Linked DNA regions of Homo sapiens: all the other regions are linked to region 3. The links come from fine-mapping of genetic effects on gene expression. A gene starts in region 3. Each other region holds a variant in brackets. All regions are shown on one strand. Distances are from middle to middle.

Evidence for each region. PIP is the estimated chance that this variant, and not a neighbour inherited with it, causes the effect.
Region 1: its variant is the best candidate, but not a certain one, in a credible set for the expression of DPP6 in skeletal muscle (GTEx, PIP 0.75).
Region 2: its variant is the best candidate, but not a certain one, in a credible set for the expression of DPP6 in esophagus muscle (GTEx, PIP 0.76).

What each region holds. Positions count from the first base shown.
Region 1 is chr7:154,434,218-154,439,217 of GRCh38, reverse strand. All of the region lies in intron 1 of DPP6 (dipeptidyl peptidase like 6), which reads right to left. Among named protein-coding and RNA genes, the nearest start is that of DPP6, 380 kb to the right of the region's middle. The variant T/C (reference allele first, on the strand shown) is at 2,249.
Region 2 is chr7:153,229,922-153,240,403 of GRCh38, reverse strand. LOC102723686 (a long non-coding RNA gene) reads right to left here. Exons shown (of 10, transcript XR_007060599.1): 6 at 3,054-3,100; 7 at 1,460-1,524. Among named protein-coding and RNA genes, the nearest start is that of LINC01287, 180 kb to the left of the region's middle. The variant T/C (reference allele first, on the strand shown) is at 5,186.
Region 3 is chr7:154,049,904-154,054,903 of GRCh38, reverse strand. It overlaps DPP6 (dipeptidyl peptidase like 6), which reads right to left and starts at 2,506. Exons shown (of 26, transcript NM_130797.4): 1 at 1,841-2,506. The coding sequence starts at 2,083. RefSeq lists an enhancer at 3,013-3,615.

The DNA of each region.
Region 1 (5,000 bases), 380 kb before region 3:
AGTTTTCTATACTGGGTAGATTTTTGGCACGCTCAACACATCACTTCTCAATGTCAAAAATCCCTGCAGGCACTCAATAAATATTAAGTAACTAACAAACTAGCCTCAAAGGCAAGAACCACCAGCAATTGAATGGCAGAGACTAAAGTAATTGGAGCTCACTTTTTAAAAAGGGCTTGCCACCCTGGTACAATGTTCCAGCACGGTACAGAGGCATTGTGAAGAGCATCCCAGTCAGAATGATCGGAGCTGCCCTCCTCCTCCACCCATGGGCCCTGGAAGCCACATTTCTAGTCTGTGAGCCCCCTCCTCTCCTCCTCAGCCAGAGACAATTAATTGGCCTAACCTAGGTCAAAAGTCTGCTCCAGGATTTGTGGTGTGAGATTAAAATATTCCAAGTCGTTCTTGGCTGCTGTCACAAACCATGAGAACGGAAGGTGGGGAGGGAAGTTAAGTGCCTGCTGCCATATGGTGTAAAGATTCCAAAGGAAATAAAGCAGATTTACAGAATGAGAGGAATGAAGTAGAGAGGTTCAGAACCAAAGAGAATGAAAAGCAAAGAGACAAAGGCAAAAAGGTAAGAAGCTCAAAGAGACAGAATGAGCTCCTCTTGGCTTTCCATTTTTGATGTACTTTTCCTCCTGAGGCCTGGATGCATTTTTCCCTTGGATTTAATAATGCACTCCTGTTACTTTAGGAGATATTTCTTTTTTTCTTTTCTTTTTTTTTTTTTTTTTTTTTTTTTTTTGAGTTGGAGTCTCACTCTGTCACCCAGGCTGGAGTGCAGTGGTGCTATCTCGACTCACTGCAAGCTCCGCCTCCTGGGTTCACGCCGTTCTCCTGACTCAGCCTCCTGAGTAGCTGGGACTACAGGCTCCCGCCACCACGCCCGGCTAATTTTTTTGTATTTTTTTAGTCGAGACGGGGTTTCACCGTGTCAGCCAGGATGGTCTCGATCTCCTGACCTTGTGATCCACCCTCCTTGGCCTCCCAAAGTTCTGGGATTACAGGCATTTGCCACAGTGCCCAGCCTTTAGGAGATATTTCATTTTCCATTTTACTTAAACTAATTTGAGTGGGTTTCTGAAACTCAAAAACAAAAGCCGAATGTACAGCAAGCATTGATGCTTCATCCAGCGCCTGCTCCCTGGTTCCTGAGGGGTATGCTCCTGTGTCTGCGGCATATTCTAGCTACACTTACACTCGAAGACTAGGTGGAAATTCCAACAACACTCTTGGTTTACAATTTAATTTAGTTTTATTTTATTTTTATGTTATTTTTTCAGATGGAGTCTCACTGTCATCCAGGCTGGAGTGCAGTGGCGTGATCTTGGCTCACTACAATCTCTGCCTCCTGGGTTCAAACATTTCTCCCTGCCTCAGCCTCCCAAGTAACACGGATTACAGGCGTCCACCACCGTGTCCAGCTAATTTTTGTATTTTTAGCAGAGACTGGGTTTCGCCATGTTGGCCAGGCTGATCTTGAACTCCTGGACTCAAGGGATCCGCCCACCTCAGCCTCTCAAAGTGCTGGAATTACAGGCATGAACCACCACACCTGGCCTTTGGTTTACAATTTTAAAATAACTAATTTGCTAATTTGATGTATACATTTTCTTTGAAAAGGCTGGTGATTCTACTAGCAGGTAGAGTTATTTTCCCAGGGAAACTGAGTGGAATTTTGCAATTACCTTAACAGATTTTCAAGAATCAAATTTGTCATCATCCACCAGCCTTGTAGTATGGGCCCCTCTGTGACAGGAGGAAGCTAATTTAAGGGGAAGCAAATGCCAGCCAAGACAGTTGGCACGGCAGAATGTTCACGGGTCTCAAAGAGGATGGGCTCTTCCTGAGGTCTTCACTATTTTAGGTATCAAATTACTCAAAAAGAAAGCTGTAGTATTTTTAAACTATAGCTGGCCTAGAATGGAATCTATTCATTAGATCCATGTTAAACAGCTATTAGCCTAGTATCAGAATTTTCACATAATCCAGTATAATGGAAAAACAAATAGCATCAGAGAAATGATTGGCTGCAGAGAGGCAATTGATGAGTAATCTTACTATCTTTATTCACCTGTAACCTTAGTCTCCTTTGTCAGGGAAGCTAACATAGTCACAGGTACCAGGGAATGGGATACGGACATCTTCATGGGGTGTCATTGGTCTGTCTACCAGAGTGGTGTATTCCATGTAACAGAATGCCATATAGCCATGCAAATCACAACCTCTGACTACATGCACAGCA[T/C]GAATGAACCTCACAAATATAATTTTAAGTGACATAGATCAGACAGTAAAGAATATAAGATGAATATTTCTTTTTGTAAAAAGTTCCACAGTGGGCAAACTACACTAAGTGAGTGGTTCACACGTAAGTTCATGAAGACAAGCCAGAAAGACATTTCCATGAAATCCAGGATGCTGCATAACTCAACGGGGAGAGAGAAGTTGCCACTGGAAAGAGGAAGTCAAGGTACAGGAGCTGCGGGGTACTGGCTGTCCTCTGTTTCTAGACCTGAATGGGCTATTTCACATTAGGAAATTCAGGTTACACTCACCCATTAAGCTGTGAGTTTACATGTTCCATAGTTTTTGCATTATAATATTTCACAATAGCAATGGTTAACCACGTGTACTGGATACCAATGTTGTGACAGTGAGCATTGGCCTAACGTGCTGAACTGAAGAGACATCCCTACACTTGCACGCGGTGGGAGAGACCTCAGGCAAACCCAGTGACACTGTGAGGTGGGGCAGTGGGCAGGAATTCCATGTGTCAAGAGGGCGTATAATGATGGGGCATGTGCTGATTTTTACTGAGGTGTTGGGGCAAGCAAGGGTGCTCTGAGGAAGAGAATTTGAGCTGAGAGTTGAAGAGTATACAGGAAGGAGGTGGTGACCAGCTGGGGCAGGTTTCCCATGCAATGGAGCGGTTGTAACCTGGTGCATGTGTGGCTACATGTCAGGAGTGAGGCGTGAAGCATCCGAGATGAAGCTGGACAGACAGGCACAAAGAAAACCAGGCCCAGCCTCGTGGACCGTGCCACTGGTCTTGCCTTTTATCCAAAACACAATAGGAAGCCAGGGGAGGATTCTGTAAGCCACCTCAAATAAGTTCCAGAAGAAGTCAGATATTAATTATTCAGTTCATCTACTGACATCAGAAAAGTGCCTAGAGAAAGGTCAGGATTGGTTCCTTCTCCCACTGTGCCTTAAAATATGTCAAATATCAGGCCAATGTGGAATTGAGCACCGTAAAAAGTAAGATATTCACACAGCTACTATAAAAAATATTGGGAGAAAATAAACGACACATACATGACTGCAGGATCTCCCATTACACTGCTTCCTTCTATTGTCTAAATGTATTTTCTTCCTAATATTTATTCACTGTGAAAAGCTCTGACATAAATTTCTTTTATGTATCATGGACCATTTACTATAAGTAGAAGGTAGCAACAAATTACAAAATCAATGGTGCACATATCTCAGGATGGTAAAACAGCCTTCTAATCATTGTATTTCCATATTCAGGAGGACAGCAAATGATGATAGGATGGCAAGAACAAGTTTTAAATAACATTTAGCAGCTGACACGTGTCCGTCAATAATCATCCAGGAGCCTGGGGGGTGCACATCCCCGTCTCTGTTTCACTGGCTCATTTACTCAGTCTTCATTATTGGTGGCTCTTCTCTTTCCACAAAGGTGATAAAAGCCAACACAGATCATAATTAACACAAGGACTTAGGGGTAGATGGAGGAAAATGCAGGACTCTGCATGGTTCCAACCTCACAGAAGATGGCAAAGAGGATCCGATGAGGTCATCTCCACTAGTGAAACTGGTGGGAAAGCGTTGGCCCAGTGCAGCGTGTGGCAGCAACTCACAGGAACGTGCAATGAATTTGGTGTGATCTCTCAGTACCCCCTCCCATTCCTCCCTCTTTCTTTCTCTCTCGTCCTCCTTCTCCTTGTTCTCTCTCTGTCTCTCTGTCCCTGTTGCTCTTTCAATGTCCCTCTGCCACTCTCTCTCACACAAACATAATTAATGCCTAGTAATCCACAATTTAAATGAAATTCTCAGCCAGGAATGGTGGCTCATGCCTGTAATTCCAGCACTTTGGGAGGCTGAGACAGGTGGATCACCTGAGGTCAGGAGTTCAACACCAGCCTGGCCAACATGGTGAAACACTATCTCTACTAAAAATACAAAAAGTAATGGGGCATAAGGGCGTGTGCCTGTAATCCCAGCTACTTGGGAGGCTGAGGCAGGAGAATTGCTTGAGAACCTGGGAGGCAGAGGTTGCAGTGAGCCGAGATTGCACCACTGCACTTTAGCCTGGGTGACCAGAGCGAGACTCCATCTCAAAAAATAAAAATAAAAATAGAATAAAATAAATTCTCTCTGCTTGGGAACAGCCATGAACATAAAAGCAACAACAACAAACAAGAAATGTCTGAGTATGAGCAGGCCCTGATCAAAAACGTGGAAGAGACTCAACTGTCTAGAGAGTCATTAATTCAGTCATTTCTGTGATGGGTTATTTTGCTGATCAGAAGATAAGAGCACTTTGATTGGAAAATGCTGATGATCCCAGTTGCACTCCCACAGCTCAGGTGAGCAGCTCAGAAACAAAGGTGGGAGAAGAGAAGGAATATGAAGACAAGAATTTACCATGATGGACTGGGAGAAAAATGGAAGAGCACGTCAGATGCAGGAGAGTGGGAAGCAGATCCCAACCCCAAAGCCAGCAGCAAGCAGAGAGGGAAGGGTGAAGCGGCGGCTGAAGAGTCCAGCAGTCTGGACCTTCAGGGTGAAAGCCAGCAGCCACATGCTTCTAAAGGCCCTGCAGGCACGATATCTGTGTGGAAACTATAACTCTGCAGTGTCACAAAAGGAGAAAATACGGGCTTAGGGTGGCTTTTTGTTTGTTTTACAGCAGCATGGTACATTTCCAAATAATTTCTACCTGAAACTATAGAAACATAGTCTGCACTTTA
Region 2 (10,482 bases), 820 kb after region 3:
GTAAAATGAGAGAATATTGCCTGGATACCTCACGAATTGATCATTTCAAGGGAAGCTTGGAAAATAAGGCAATATACAAACCTAAGAAATATGTTTTTGAGGCCAGATGCTCTATGACATGGGTTGATAAACTACACCATTGGGCCCAGCCCAGCCTGCCACCGGCTTGTGTAGGTAAAGTCTTATTGAAGGACAACCATGCCCATTTGTTTACTATTTATCCATGGCTGCTTTTGCACAACAGCAGAGCTGAGTCATCAGAGACCATATGGCCCACAAAGCCTAAAATATTTACTATCTAGCTCTGTATTTAAAAAAAAAAAACTTGCCAACACCGGTCTATCATGTAACTTTGAACTTCATAAATGAATGTATAAAGGTGATTTTAATGAATTATTTTATTCTATGTCTACTGCGTATATCTTTCTCTTCCTTCTAAATCTCCTTCCTGATTATAAAGTGACATGGTAGAAAGTCACCTCTTGATTTTGAGGCTTTTTAATTTGACTATAGTTCCCTTAAGAGACTACACAATGTTCATTGTATTTTGGGGATGCCCTCCTCAGAATTTACCTATGGAATGCGTTCATTGCAATGACAATTCTTCCTTTAGTTAGGATGGATTTGAATACTGGAAACACCTACACAGGTGGATGCAAATGTGAAGAAGAAACAATTTCAAGTGTTATTTTGCCATCTTTGAGGCTTCCAGGCCCCAAAGGAGCCCTATGAGTTCCCCTGCTCCCTGCCTTGCTTGTTCCCGTTGGCTGGACCAGTGTCCCCCATCAGTCTCCAATCTCACGTGTCTCCATCCCCTGCTACTCCATGAAACAAACAAGCCAATAACATCCTCCCACAGGCACCAGGGGCCACCACACCCCCTTGTTTCTACAAAGCCTGCCTCCATGCCCCTCTGGTCCACTCTGTTCTTGAGTGCATCCCTCGTGTGGCCCTGCGTGGTGTGTGGCGTCATCTTCCCCAGGCAGGCTGTGGGTATATGTAACTAATAAACTGCTGTTGATCACATCTGTCCAGCACAAGGTGTCATGTGTTCAGCTACCTTGTGCGATTGAAGGGGTTGGGTATTCTTCCTCCACCAACATGGTGAATAATGATGATAGAACAGGGTGCACCTGGGAGCCACCAGCCACCAGGCTATGGGTAAATCATCTCTAAAGAAAGGATCTTGGCAAAGCACCACAGTCTTCATTAAAGTTAATCCCTTCCACTTCACAGATCAACTTGCTTTTTACATTAAGTTTGTCTCATTTGAGTATAGCACTGGGATCACTGAGCACCAAAGAGATTCTTCCCTATGTCCACTGTGTGGCAGCAGGCCTACCTCCCACTGGTAATGAGTCAATTTTCCCTGCAGGTTGTGACTTTTCTCTTCTGGATGGTTTATTGGCACCAAGTGATCAAGCAGCAGCCATAGCTGAAAGTTCAATGAGACTCTTACCATGTCCACTGGTGGAAGTAATTTCCTTCTGGAAGCCAGGACCTCTTAACAGGTACAGCATGAAACTGCAGGGACCAGAGCAGAAATTTCAAGTGAGTCGAAGAGAGCCATGGAGAACGTGGTGTCATCTCTATTTTCCATTCCTTACACCAAATGAAGACACAGCTGTGTCATATAATAGTCATTGATTTAGGCTGTCTATGCTGCCCTGGAAAACAGCACCTGTGGTAAATTTAAAATGGCTACAGATTTTTTTGCTACTGGTCCCACTGAGATGTCATTGAGAGGGAAAGTCTATTTCCCCTCCTCCTGAATCTGGGCCAGGTCTGTGACTTCTGTGGTTAGTAGTGTGCTACCGAAGTGATACCACATGACTTTCAAGGCTGGGTCATAAGAAACCTTGCAGCTAGGCCTGGAATGTTTGCACTTGGGATCATCCCTCTTGGAATAAGCCATGAGGCTATGAGAAGCCCAAGCCACACGGAGAAGCCACAGTGAGGGCTCCAGTTGATCACCCTGTTGGACTCCCAGCCAATAAGCAGCATCAACTTTAAGCTAATGTGGCTAGAGGGATGAGTTGGGGGAGAGGTGCCAACACAATAATAGAAGATATGTGGTCTGGGCCACCTGCTCATGTAGCTTACTTGTACCTGCTGGATTTGTTCTTGCCTAAACCTACATGCACCATTTCTGTTTTATGATGAATTTCTTCTGGGCTCACTTGCCTATGTCTTTGTGGGTGTGACCCGATGCAGCTCATGACGGGGCACTGGTCACTTGGTCACTTGATGCTCCATGGTCAAACACTGTGCCTCTAGCAGAACCCAGGACAGGGCATGACAGGAGCTACTTTTGGAATGCTTTATAGTTATCTCCTGTGGTTGGTAATGTCCTTGCTCCCAGTAGATCCTAAAGAGATACATTCTGATTATCCAGTTGAAGCTTGCCAAATGTTCCACACAGCATCTTTTCCCACCTTTTTGATACCTACAGGGTCATACATCTGTCAGGTCAAATGACAAAAATGGAAGGACCAGCTGTGCTGCAGCCTGGAAACGATGTAGATGCCAGCCTGGGCTCAGGTTCCACTTAAAAATGCATACCCTCCATGTCTCCTCTAAATGGGTACAATCAGTATTCCCAAGTGCCAAAGATGTTGACTCCATAATCCTGGGTGCCTGCCAAATTCTTCTCATCTTTCTTGACTGTGGGCAATACTAGATTCAACAATTCATCCTTTATTTAGAGGGGATGTCCCAGCAAGTCCCAGACTTCCAGACACCTACAAATTTTGTGACTGTGACAGATCCCTGAACCTTCATAACATTTATTTTTCCATCCTGTGAAGAATGTGAACATATGCCTTATCAAGTTCTCTAACATATTTGCCATTTCTTGTTCATCCAGCATGATTAACATGGTGCCATAGATAGAGTGTACCCATGTAGTATCATAGACAATTCCTAGATGGTCCAGGGATCTTCAGACTATAAAATGACAGATGGTGGGAGAGGTAACATAACCGCAGAGAAAGACTCTAAACATTTACTGTTGTGCTTTTCACATAAACATAAGCTGTTTTTGATCCACCTACCTGATAAAGATGTTAAAAATGTCTTCGCCATCTCCTCAGATGCATACCTAAGAGAGGAAACTGTGTTAATCATGGCTTAGTATGTGCAATTATCTGGTCCTTTTGATCCTTTCTTCTACCATCTGTCATGACAACTCTGGCATTTCTGCTTCACTTACTCTGGGCCATTGATTTTCTCAAGAATTTCAAGAGCCATCCTGGCAACATATCAGCCCCATTCCCATGGTCCTTGCCAGTTGTTATATCTTCTATTGTAAGGTATTGCTTCCACGTCCATAACCTCTCCTTCACCCAATTCTATGTTCTGCCCCTCCTTGATCCAGCACCCTTGGGACAACTCCCATGCCTGCTAGCAGACCCTGGAGGACTTCGGATTATGAGCCTCCTCCTCACTTGGCAGCTCAGCATGACCCTCTTTGGGCTCTGCTGGGATTTGACACTTGTTATTAGATTGCTGCCAGAAACACCCTGAAGGGGAAGGCATTGTCTTTTAAGAAACTTGACTCTTTTGAAACCTCTGCATAATCTTCAAGCAAGGAGCCATCTTTTAGCAAGATGGAATAGGCCACTTCTTTAGGACGAGCAATACGAGAGATGCTGGATGCTGAAGTTTCTCAAGAGCATCTACTCACCCACCCTAATCTCAGACCTCAGGTTTTCACTCTGTTATTGGGCTTAATTTTGTCTCCCACAAAATATGCTGAAGTCCCAATCTCCAAGACCTGGGAAAGTGACCTTATTTGGAAATAAAGTCTTTACTGAGGTAATCAAGTTAAAATAAGATCATTATGGTGAACCGTAATCCAATATAACTGTTGTTCTTATACAAAGGGGAAATCTGGACACAGAAACAGACATGACACAGGGAGAACGCCATATGAAGATAAAGGCAGAGATTGGGATGATGCATCTAGATGCCAAAAAACACCAGTGATAGAAAACCACTAGAAGATAGGGAAGAGGCACAAAACAGATTCTCCCTCACAGTCCCCAGAAGGAACCCCCCCGCCAACATTTCTGTCTGAGACCTCCAGCCTGCAGAACCATAAGACAACCTTTTCCTGTGGTTGAGCCACTCAGTTCTGCTTTGTTACCAGAACCCAAGGACACTAATGCAAACTCCTTCCCTTCTGGAGTTCCCAGGCTGACAGGAACTGCACTTCTATTTAGGTCTCTCTCTTGCCCATTTGGATCGTCTATTCTAGGGGAAGTTGTGTCATGAGCAGCCCCATGGAAAGGCCCACATGGTGAGGCAATGAAGCCTCCTGCCAAGTCACATAAGTGAGCTTGGGCACAGGACCTCCATCCCCCATTGCGATGGTCATAGCCCTGGCCAACAGCTTGACTGCAACCTCGAGAGAGACCTTGAGCCAGATCCACCCAGCTAAGTCAAGCCTGTTCATAATTTTTTTTTTTGAGACAGAGTTTTGCTCTTGTTGCCCAGGCTGGCATGCAATGGCACAATCTCAGCTCACTGCAACCTCCACCTCCTGAGTTCAAGCAATTCTTCTGCCTCAGCCTCCCAAGTAGCTGGGATTACAGGTGCCCACCACCACGCCTGACTAATTTTTTGTATTTTTAGTAGAGACAGGGTTTCACCATGTTGGTCAGGCTGGTCTTCAACTCCTGACCTCAGGTGATCCATCCGCCTGGGCCTCCCAAAGTGCTGGGATTATAGGCATGAGCCATCGTGCCCAGCAAGCCTGTTCATAATTTTAAGCTGCTAAGATTTGGGCTACACTGTAGTGCCACAACAGTTAATACAGATGGCCTTCAGGATTTCAGAGACTGAGACATTTTCATCTGTATTCCTCATTAACAAGCTCATTTGGAGGGTAGTACAAGGTTAGGACATTTTTACTGGGAACAGAGCAGTTTGCTGTGTGAAAAATTAATGTGTTTACGATAGCTGAATAGGAACAGCTCCAGTCTGCAGCTCCCAGCAAGACTGATGCAGAAAGCAGGTGATTTATGCATTTCCAACTGAGGTACACGGCTCATCTCATTGGGACTGGTTAGACAGTAGGAGCAGCCCACAGAGGGTGAGCTGAAGCAGGGTGGGGCATCGCCTCACCTGGGAAGTGCAAGGAGTCGGGAACTCCCTCCCCTAGCCAAGGGAAGCCCTGAGGGAC[T/C]GTGCCATGAGGAACAGTGCTATCAGGTGCAGATGCTATGGTTTTCCTATGGTATTCACAACCCGCAGACCAGGAGATTCCCTCTGGTGGCTACACCATCAGGGCCCTGGGTTTCAAGCACAAAACTGGGCAGCCATTTAGGCAGACACCAAGCTAGCTGCAGGAGTTTTTTTTCATACCCCAGTGGTACCTGGAATGCCAGTGAGACAGAACTGTTCACTCCTCTGGATAAAGGGCTGAAGCCAGGGACCCAAGTGGTCTAGCTCAGCAGATCCCATCCCCACAGAGCCCAGCAAACTAAGATCCACTGGCAGTCTGAAGATCCAGTCTGAAGATCCAGCACTCTGAATTTGACCAGAGACACTCGAGCTTGGTGGGTGGAGGGGCGTCCACCATTACTGAGGCTTGAGTAGGCATTTTCCCCCTCACAGTGTAAACAAAGCCGCAGGGAAGTTCAAACTGGGCGGAGCCCACCACAGCTCAGCAAAGCCACTGTAGCCAGACTGCCTCTCTATATTTCTTCTCTCTGGTCAGGGCATCTCTGAAAGAAAGGCAGCAGCCCAGTCAGGGGCTTATAGATAAAAGTCCCATCTCCCTGGGACAGTGCACCTAGGGGAAGGGGCAGCTGTGGGTGCAGCCTCAGCAGACATAAATGTTTGTGCCTGCCGGCTCTGAAGAGAGCAGCAGCTCTCCCAGCACAGCACTCGAGCTCTGCTAAGGGACAGACTGCCTCCTCAAGTGGGTCCCTGACCCCCATGACTCCTGACTGGAAGACACCTCCCAGCAGGGGTCGACAGACACCTCATACAGGAGAGCTCCAGCTGGCAACTAGCAGGTGCCCCTCTGGGATGAAGCTACCAGAGGAAGGAACAGGCAGCAATCTTTGCTGTTCTGCAGCCTCCGCTGGTGATACCCAGGAAAACCAGATCTGGAGTGGACCTCCAGCAAACTCCAGCAGACCTGCAGCAGAGGAGCCTGACTTTTAGAAGGAAAACTAACAGAAAGGAATAGCATCAACATCAACAAAAAGAATGTCCACACAAAAACCCCACCCAAAGGTCACCAGCATCAAAGACCAAAAATAGATAAATCCACAAGATAGGGAAAAAACAGCGCAAAAAGGCTGAAAATTCCCCAAACCAGAATACTTCTTCTCCTCTAAAAGATCACAACTCCTTGCCAGCAAGGGAACAAAACTGGATGGAGAATGAGTTTGACGAATTGACAGAAGTAGGCTTCAGAAGGTAGGTAATAACAAACTCCTCCAAGCTAAAGGATCACGTTCTAACCCAATACAAGGAAGCTAAGAACCTTGATAAAAGGTTACAGGAACTGCTAACTAGAATAACCAGTTTAGAGAAGGACATAAATGACCTCATGGAGCTGAAAAATACAGCACAAGGACTTCATGAAGCACACACAAGTATCAATAGCCAAATTCATCAAGTGGAGGAAAGGATATCAGAGACTGAAGATCAACTTAATGAAATAAAGTGTGAAGACAAGATTAGAGAAAAAAGAATGAAAAAGCCTCCAAGAAATACGGGACTGTGTGAAAAGTCCAAACCTACATTTGATTAGTGGACCTGAAAGTGACAGGGAGATTGGAACCAAGTTGGAAAACACTCATCAGGATATTATCCTGGAGAAATTCCCCAACCTAGCAAGACAGGCCAACATTCAAATTCAGGAAGTACAGAGAACACCACAAAGATACTCCACAAGGAGAGCAACCCCAAGACACATAATCATCAGATTCGCCAAGGGTGAAATGAAGGAAAAAAATGTTAAGAGCAGCCAGAGAGAAACATCAGGTTACCCACAAAGGGAAGCCTATCAGACTAACAGTGGATCTCTCTGCAGAAACTGCACAAGCCAGAAGAGAATGAGGGCCAATATTCAACATTCTTAAAGAAAAGAATTTTCAACCCAGAATTTCATATCCAGCCAAACTAAGCCTTAGAAGTGAAGGAGAAATAAAATCCTTTACAGACAAGCAAATGCTGAGAGATTTTGTCACCACCAGGCCTGCCTTACAAGAGCTCCTGAAGGAAGCATTAAACATGGAAAGGAAAAACCAGTACCCGCCACTAAAGATACCAAATTGCAAAGACCATCGACACTATGAAGAAACTGCATCAACTAATGGGCAAAATAACCAGCTAGCATCATAATGACAGGATCAAATTCACACATAACAGTACTAACCTTAAATAAAAATGGGCTAAATGCCCCAATTAAAAGACACAGACTGGCAAATTGGATAAAGAGGCAAGACCCATTGGTGTGCTGTATTCAGGAGACCAATCTCACATGCAAAGACACACATACGCTCAAAATAAAGGGATGGAGGAATATTTACCAAGCAAATGGAAAGCCAAAAAAAAAAAAAAAAAAAAAAGCAGGGGTTCTAATCCTAGTCCCTGATAAAACAGACTTTAAACCAACAAAGATCAAAAAAGACAAAGAAGGGCATTACATAATGATAAACGGATCAATGCAACAAGAAGAGCTAACTATCCTAAATATACATGCACCCAGATTCATCAAGCAAGTTCCTAGAGACCTACAAAGAGACTTAGACTCCCACACAATAATAGTGGGAGACTTTAACACCCCATGTCAATATTAGACAGATCAATGAGACAGAAAATTAACAAGGATATTCAGGATTTGAACTCAGCTCTGGACCAAGAGGACCTAACAGACATCTACAGAACTCTCCACCCAAAATCAACAGAATATACGTTATTCTCAGCACCACATCACACTTATTCTAAACTTGACCATATAATTGGAAGTAAAACACTCCTCAGCAAAGGCAAAAGAACAGAAATCATAACAAACAGTCTCTCAGACCACAGTGCAATCAAATTAGAACTCAGGATTAAGAAACTCACTCAAAACCGCACAATTACATGGAAACTAAACAATCTGCTCCTGAAAGACTATTGGGTAAATAACAAAATTAAGGTAGACATAAATAATTCCTTGAAACAAGTGAGAACAAAGACACAATGTACCAGAACCTCTGGGAAACAGCTAAAGTAGTGTTTACAGAGAAATTTATAGCACTAAATACCCACAGGAGAAAGCAGGAAAGATAAAATTGACACCCTAACATCACAATTAAAAGAACTAGAGAAGCAAGAACAAACAAATTCAAAAGCCAGCAGAAAACAAGAAATAACTAAGATCAGAGCAGAACTGAAGGAGATAGAGACACAAAAAAAACCCTCAAAAAATCAATGAATCCAAGAGCTGCTTTTTTGAAAAGATTAACAAAATAGATAGACTGCTAGCCAGACTAATAAAGAAGAAAAGAGGGAAGAATCAAATGGACACAATAAAAATGATAAAGGGGATTTCACCACTGATCCCACAGAAATGCAAACTATCATCAGAAAATACTATAAACACCTCTATGCAAATAAACTAGAAAATCTAGAAGAAATGAATAAATTCCTGGACACACACACCCTCCCAAGTCTAAACCAAGAAGAAATTGAATCCCTGAATAGGCCAATAACAAGTTCTGAAATTGAGGCAGTAATTAACAACCTGCCAACCAAAAAAAAAAAGCCCAGGACCAGACGGATTCACAGCTGAATTCTACCAAAGGTAGAAAGAGGAGCTAGTACCATTCCTTCTGAAACTATTCCAAAAAATAGAAAAAGAGGGCCTCCTTCCTAATGCATTTTATGAGGCCAACATCATCCTGATACCAAAACCTGTCAGAGATACAACAAAAAAAGAAAATTTTGGGCCAATATCCCTGATGAACATCAATGCAAAAATCCTCAATAAAATACTGGCAAAGTGAATCCGGCAGCACATCAAAAAGCTTACCCACCACTATCAAATCGGTTTCATCCCTGGCATGCAAGGATGGTTCAACATACACAAATCAATAAACATAATCCATCATATAAACAGAACCAATGACAAAAACCACATGATTATCTCAACAGATGCAGAAAAGGCCTTTGATACAATTCAACATCTCTTCATGCTAAAAACTCTCAATAAACTAGGTATTGATGGAACCTATCTCAAAATAATAAGAGCTATTTATGACAAACCCACAGCCAATATCATACTGAATGGGCAAAAGCTGGAAGTATTCCCTTTGAAAACTGGCACAAGACAAGGATGCCCTCTCTCACCATTCCTATCCAACATAGTATGGGAAGTTCGGTCCAGGGCAATTAAGCAAGAGAAAGAAATAAAGGGTATTCGAATAGGAAGAGAGGAAGTCCAACTGTCTCTGTTTGCAGATGACATGATTGTGTATTTAGAAAATCCCATCATCTCAGCCCCAAATCTCCTTAAGCTGATAGGTAACTTCAGCAAAGTCTCAGGATACAAAATCAATGTGTGAAAATCACTAGCATTCCTAGACCAATAATAGACAAACAAAGAGCCAAATCATGAGTGAACTCCCATTCACAATTGCTACAAAGAGAATAAAATACCTAGGAATACAATTTACAAGCAATGTGAGGGACCTCTTCAAGGAGAACTACAAACCACTGCTCAAGGAAATAAGAGAAGACACAAACAAATAGAAAAACAATCCATGCTCATGGATAGGATAAATTGATATCGTGAAAATGGCCATACTGCCCAAAGTAATTTACTGACTCAATGCTATCCCCATCAAGCTACCATTGACTTTATTCACAGAATTAGGAAAAAACTACTTTAAATTTTATATGGAACCAAAAAAGAGCCTGTATAGCCAAGACAATCCTAAGCAAAAAGAATAAAGCTGGAGGCATCACGCTACCTGACTTCAAACTATACTACAAGTCTACAGTAACCAAAACAGCATGGTACTGGTACCAAAACAGATATACAGACCAATGGAACAGAACACAGGCCTCAGAAATAACGCCACACATCTACAACCACCTGATCTTTGATAAACCTGACAAAAATAAGCAATAGGGAAAGGATTCCCTATTTAATAAATGGTGTTGGGAAAACTGGCTAGCCATATACAGAAAACTGTAACTGGACCCCTTCCTTACACCTTATACAAAAATTAACTCAAGATGGATTAAAGACTTAAATGTAAGACCTAAAGCCATAAAAACCCTAGAAGAAAACCTAGGCAATACCATTCAGGACATAGGCATGGGCAAAGACTTTGTGACTAAAACACCAAAAGCAAGGACAACAAAAGCCAAAATTGACAAATGGGATCTAATTAAACTAAAGAGCTTCTGCACAGCAAAAGAAACTATCACCAGAGAGTACAGGCAACCTAAAGAATGGAAGAAAATTTTTGCAAT
Region 3 (5,000 bases):
TCATCTGAAATAAAATTCAGAGCTCTTGCCTTTCCTTTCTCCTAGCGACACCTAGAGCCTGTTGAGAAAAAAACTGCACATTGTTCTCATTCCAAACATCCACAATTCAACAATTTTAAGTCAGATTTAAGGTAAAAAGTACATTTTTCCTGTTTGCATTGCAGCTTAACTGTCTTCCCCAAGATTCTCGGTAGTTTAATCCTCCAGAACTCTTCACCCTCCCCCAATTAAACCATTTGCCAAAGACTTGAACCAGATGACTGAAGGATCTGTCTATTTCCCTCAGGGCTTGGCCCACCAAAGTGAGGGACATGCCTTTGAATGACTATTTAACCAGGGGAGTCTGGAAACGATGCAGGAGAAAATCACAAAACCTCATGCAAAATCTGACGCAGGGCTGTAGGGGGTGTGTACCTGTGTGTGTGCAAACCACATCTCCCACAAAGTTTTGTGATCTCCATTAAAGTTTCCACATCCTTCATTCATAAAACAAAAACTACCAATAACAACAGCAAAACCTCACTGATTTCATAGTATCTGGCAATTAGGAATTGTCCCTGGGAAATCACTCAATGTCTCACCCCTCCCTCGACCCAAACACAACTCTTGCACTAAAGAAATACGAAACAGGGAACCAGCGTGGCTGGAGGCTGCAGAGAGGTAATGACCAAAACCACCTACTCAGTGCCCGGCAATGTACTGCCCTGGGTATGTCAGGGTAGACTAAGTGAGAGGCCGGTGGGACCCCTGCGGTTCCCAGGTTGAGCAGTTGTGAAACTCCTCAAAGGCATACATAGTAATTTCTACAAACCAACACAGCCTAGCTGTTATAAGAGCTGTACCAGCCAAGCCAGACCTGTTTCTCTGAGAGCCTGTCGGGGATTTTTCTCTTTTCCCTGGGAAAAGAAGGCCTCAAAGAAAAAGCACAGTTTCCTCCCTTCTAAGTCCTAGCAGCCCTCTGCATCCTTGAAAGGGATCCACAGGAGGTGGTTAAACGCATCCATCTAAGGTCCGGCTCCTGTCCTGCATGAGTCATTGGTTACTAGGGCGATGTGCAAATCCAACCTTTGAAACCCAGGCTTCCAGCCCCCATGAAGAGTAGGAAATGTGCTCTCGGAGAAGTTTTCACTGAACACGGTCTAAGGCAGAGGTGCTAGTCCAGGGCTGGGAGGGGAGACAGACACGGCCTGAGGGCTCTCAGCAAAAGAGCTGGGCCCTGGGACAGAGGGTTGGGGCTCAGATGCCAGTATTTTGGTATTTTTTTTTTCCGGAAAGGATAATCACCATCACCACCGCTGGGGGGAAAAAGTGTCTAGGAGAAGTAAGAAGAGGAACGAAGGAGAGGCATTTGAGTCAAGGGACAGAGTGAGTAGGAGAGGAGGGGCACGATGGAGAGATTCCAGACACAGGTGGGAGGGAGAGAAGGTGCCTGAGGCTGTGTTCCCGGAGCACGAAATAAATAAAAAATAAACCAACTCGTAAGCACAGGCCGATCGAATTCTCTCCTTAGGAACCATAGCAGCATGCTGTTAAAAACAGACATCCGCGCACCCAGGGAACGTAAGGCGAATTCCAGATCCCAGCAGGCGCAGTACCCAAACCCCGCTCTCTCCAGCCACCAACTCCCGGCCGCCGCGGCTGCAGACACAGACCCGCTCCCTCCGGGACGCGGTGACCGCGATCTGGCGCCACGGAGCCTGTCTGGGGGCGCCCGGAGAGTCGTGGGCGGGGGGAGGGCGCCTGATTCCCCCCCCAAAAAAAATTTCCCCTGCCGACGCGTCTCGCTGCGCGCTCAGCCCGGAGAACCCGCCGCCGCCCCCCGCCCCCGAGAAGCTCTTACGTCCTCCTCGTCACCATCGCTCCGCGCCTGGTACTGGAACCGGGGCCGGCCACCCGCGCCGCCGCCGCCGCCGCCGCGCTCCCGGGGCGCCGCCGCCTGCGCCCGCGGGCCGAGGGGCTTGGCTCCTGCGCCGCCGTCCTCCTCGGGCCCCTGGCCGCCCAGGAGGTGACTCGCCTCCGGGGGCGCGGGGAAGGACCTCGAGGTGTTGATCTTGCCAGTGAACCTCTGGTACAGCGAAGCCATCGGGCACCGCGCTCCTGCTGGCTGTCTTTGGGGCTTTTTAATATTTTGCTTTCTCTCCGGTTCCCACTCCCCACCCCGCTCCAGATTAAAAAAAAAAAAAGGCGGTGGGGAGGCAGCAGCAGCAGCAGCAGCAAGGCAAGCCCAGCGCCGGCGGCCGCTCCTCCCGCGCGCCACTCGCGAGTCTCCGCTGGCGACTCTGCCTGGCTCAGCCTCCTCCGCCCCCTCCCCGGCGGCTCGCGAAGCCGGGGCTCTGGCTGTGCTTTCTCTCTTTCCTGTTTTTATAATTTTTTTCCCCAACTCCTTGCCACAGCCACGTACGGCCTAATCAAAGAGATTGAAGGAAGAAAAAAAACCAAAAACATAAAGCGAGGGAAATGCCTAGGCCCCAGAATTTGGCACCACCTAGAGACCGGCACACATTCCGAGCGCTCTCCTCGCTCCCCGCCCCCAGGCCCCTCGCGCAGCTCCTCCTCCACCCCGGCCCCTCCGCCCCCTTCCCCACCGGCCTCCTCCCCGCGCCCGGGACTGGCACCTGGGTGGCAGGGGTTGGCAGCCCGGAGAGGGCACGGGGTCGCACAAAAGGGTGCGAGGGTGCGTGAAGAGGGTGGAGGGGCTGGGACCACGCGGGTCGTGGGTGCGGGGGCGGTGGGGGAGTCCCGGGAGCTCAGGGTGCTGCGGCCCCACCGAAGGTAGTGCTGCGAGTGCCCCGCAGCACGCGAGCGGACGGTGCAAGGGGATGCGGAGGTCGAGGCAGGCAGGCCGGCCAGGGGGCGACTGAAGGTGCAGCCGGCCCCGGGGCGCCCCAGCCACGCACGCGCTGCGGCGCCGGGCTCCCCGCGCCCCCAGCTCCTCTTGCCTAACTTGAAGCAACACCAGAGACACCCCGAGGACCTGGGGTGCGAATGGGGCGTGGGAGAGCCACCAGGAGGGCGCGGGGTGGTCGGACGACGCTGGTGAAGAGGCCGCCCTCCCTCCACAGCCCAGCTCCCTCCGAAACCGCCCCTTCCCTTCGCCTCTCTCCGGAGGAGGGCAGGAAAGGTCGCGGGGCGGCAGAGGACGCCCAGAGGCCCAGGCGCCCCTCGCGGGCGATGCGCCCCGCAGAGAGCCCGGCTGTGACCGCGACTCCATTCTCATTATCATGAACGCAGGCGGAGGCTCGGCTCTCCGGCTGCCCGCAACTTTTCCAAAGCCTGCGCCTCACTGTGCCCGCCGAGAGCGAGGGAGGGCGACATGGCTCCACTCGCCGCGCGCTCTCGGGCTTGCCTCCTGCCCAGCCGCAGGAAGGCGCGCTCCAGCGCCCCTGTGTGGACACCCGCACCAGCGGGCTCCGCTCCTCCGCTCCAGGCCCGGCCTGGCTTCTCTTCCCCTCCCGGCCCTCCCGCGTCCTCCCCGGCTCCCTTCTGCACTCCTCTCCGTCCTTCTGGAGTTGCTGGGCACGCGTCTCTCTCGTCTCGTCCCCACGTCCTCCTTGCGCGCCCCTTCCAGCCCTTCCCGGCCGGGAAGGACCTATCACATCCAGAGAGTGAACGTGGGCCGGGAAACCCCAACTCCAGAGGGGGGAACCTGTGAGACCCGACCCTGCCCATTCCGCCGCCTCCTTCCACATGGAGGTAGGGCGTTGGCTTCATCTCCCAGGACTGCCTAAGGCTCCCTGCTCCTTCCGGGTTTCCATGCCTGTTTCCACTTAGGGTTTCAAAATAACAGCCTCGGCTGCCACTCACAAGGCTGACTGCAGGCTCGCCCCCAGCCCTGGCATTGCCCCAAGCCCAGAGAGAGGCCTGCCTGGGCCTGAAACTGCATGCTCCCTCTGTTTCCCTAACTGCGGGGGAGAATACTGGATGCCGGTGAACAAGTCTCCTGGGAAGAGACCTCCTTCAGTCCCTTCCACCTGCCTCCCTTCCCCAAGCTTTCAATCCAGTGTGTAGTTTTTGGTTTAACCAAAATTTGTACCACGCTCATCTTCTGTTTACTCCACAGTAGTTACCCTTTACTATGAAGAAACATGAGTTTAAAAACACTTTAAAAAATAGCAAATACAAAACCAAGTAAAACCAGGATTGCAACAGCTAAGCGAAACTTGCTGCATGGGAGAGGCCAGGCAGGTGGGTCTGGGGTGGGGAGAGCTTCAGCTGCTCCATTTGACTTTGAAGACAGAGGCAACAGAGCCATAAAACTAAACTTTAAAAGTCACCACAATTAGATAGATAGAAAACCTTGCTCTCAACCCCCTCCTCTGCCCCAGCTGTGCTTTTGATGGGAGGAAGCTGCCTCTCCTAACATGGACATGAAAGAAAGCTCATGCTATTCACCGCAGCATCGCGATCCTGACATTTCACTAAATATAGATGCAGTTAGGGTCCCACTTATGTAATATACATACGCTATCTATGAAATATGCATGCATATTTTTACACAAACTAAATGTCATACTAATATAGTTTATACAAAATACAATGATAGATGTGTGCATATTAATCATAGATAGAATACTATTGGGATAAAGCATATGTGCCACTTTTAAAAACTATATTCTCAAGGCATTGTAGGTAACTGTAATCTAACTAAAGTTTAAAATCTCAATTAAATTATCTAAGAAAATATGATAAGCGATTTCTGCTTAAAATTATAAAATGAAATCACCATAAAACTCATAAGCAACAGGGGAAAGAGTTGAAGTAAAAATTTGTGCTGGGAAGCAAATCTCACAATTAAGCAGAAGAAACGGAGGGCAGGAAAGAGCGAGCGTCTGAAAGATGCAGGTGTGAAAGGAGCCGGAATGCTGGGGAGGACTGGAAACAGCATGGATGAACACGAGGATGTTCCTCAAGGATGATCCAGATGGAGCGCCCTTTACCCAAATTGAAAAGCGCTTGGCTATACTCTTGCACCTTGCACACTGAACGCGGTGCTTCTAGGG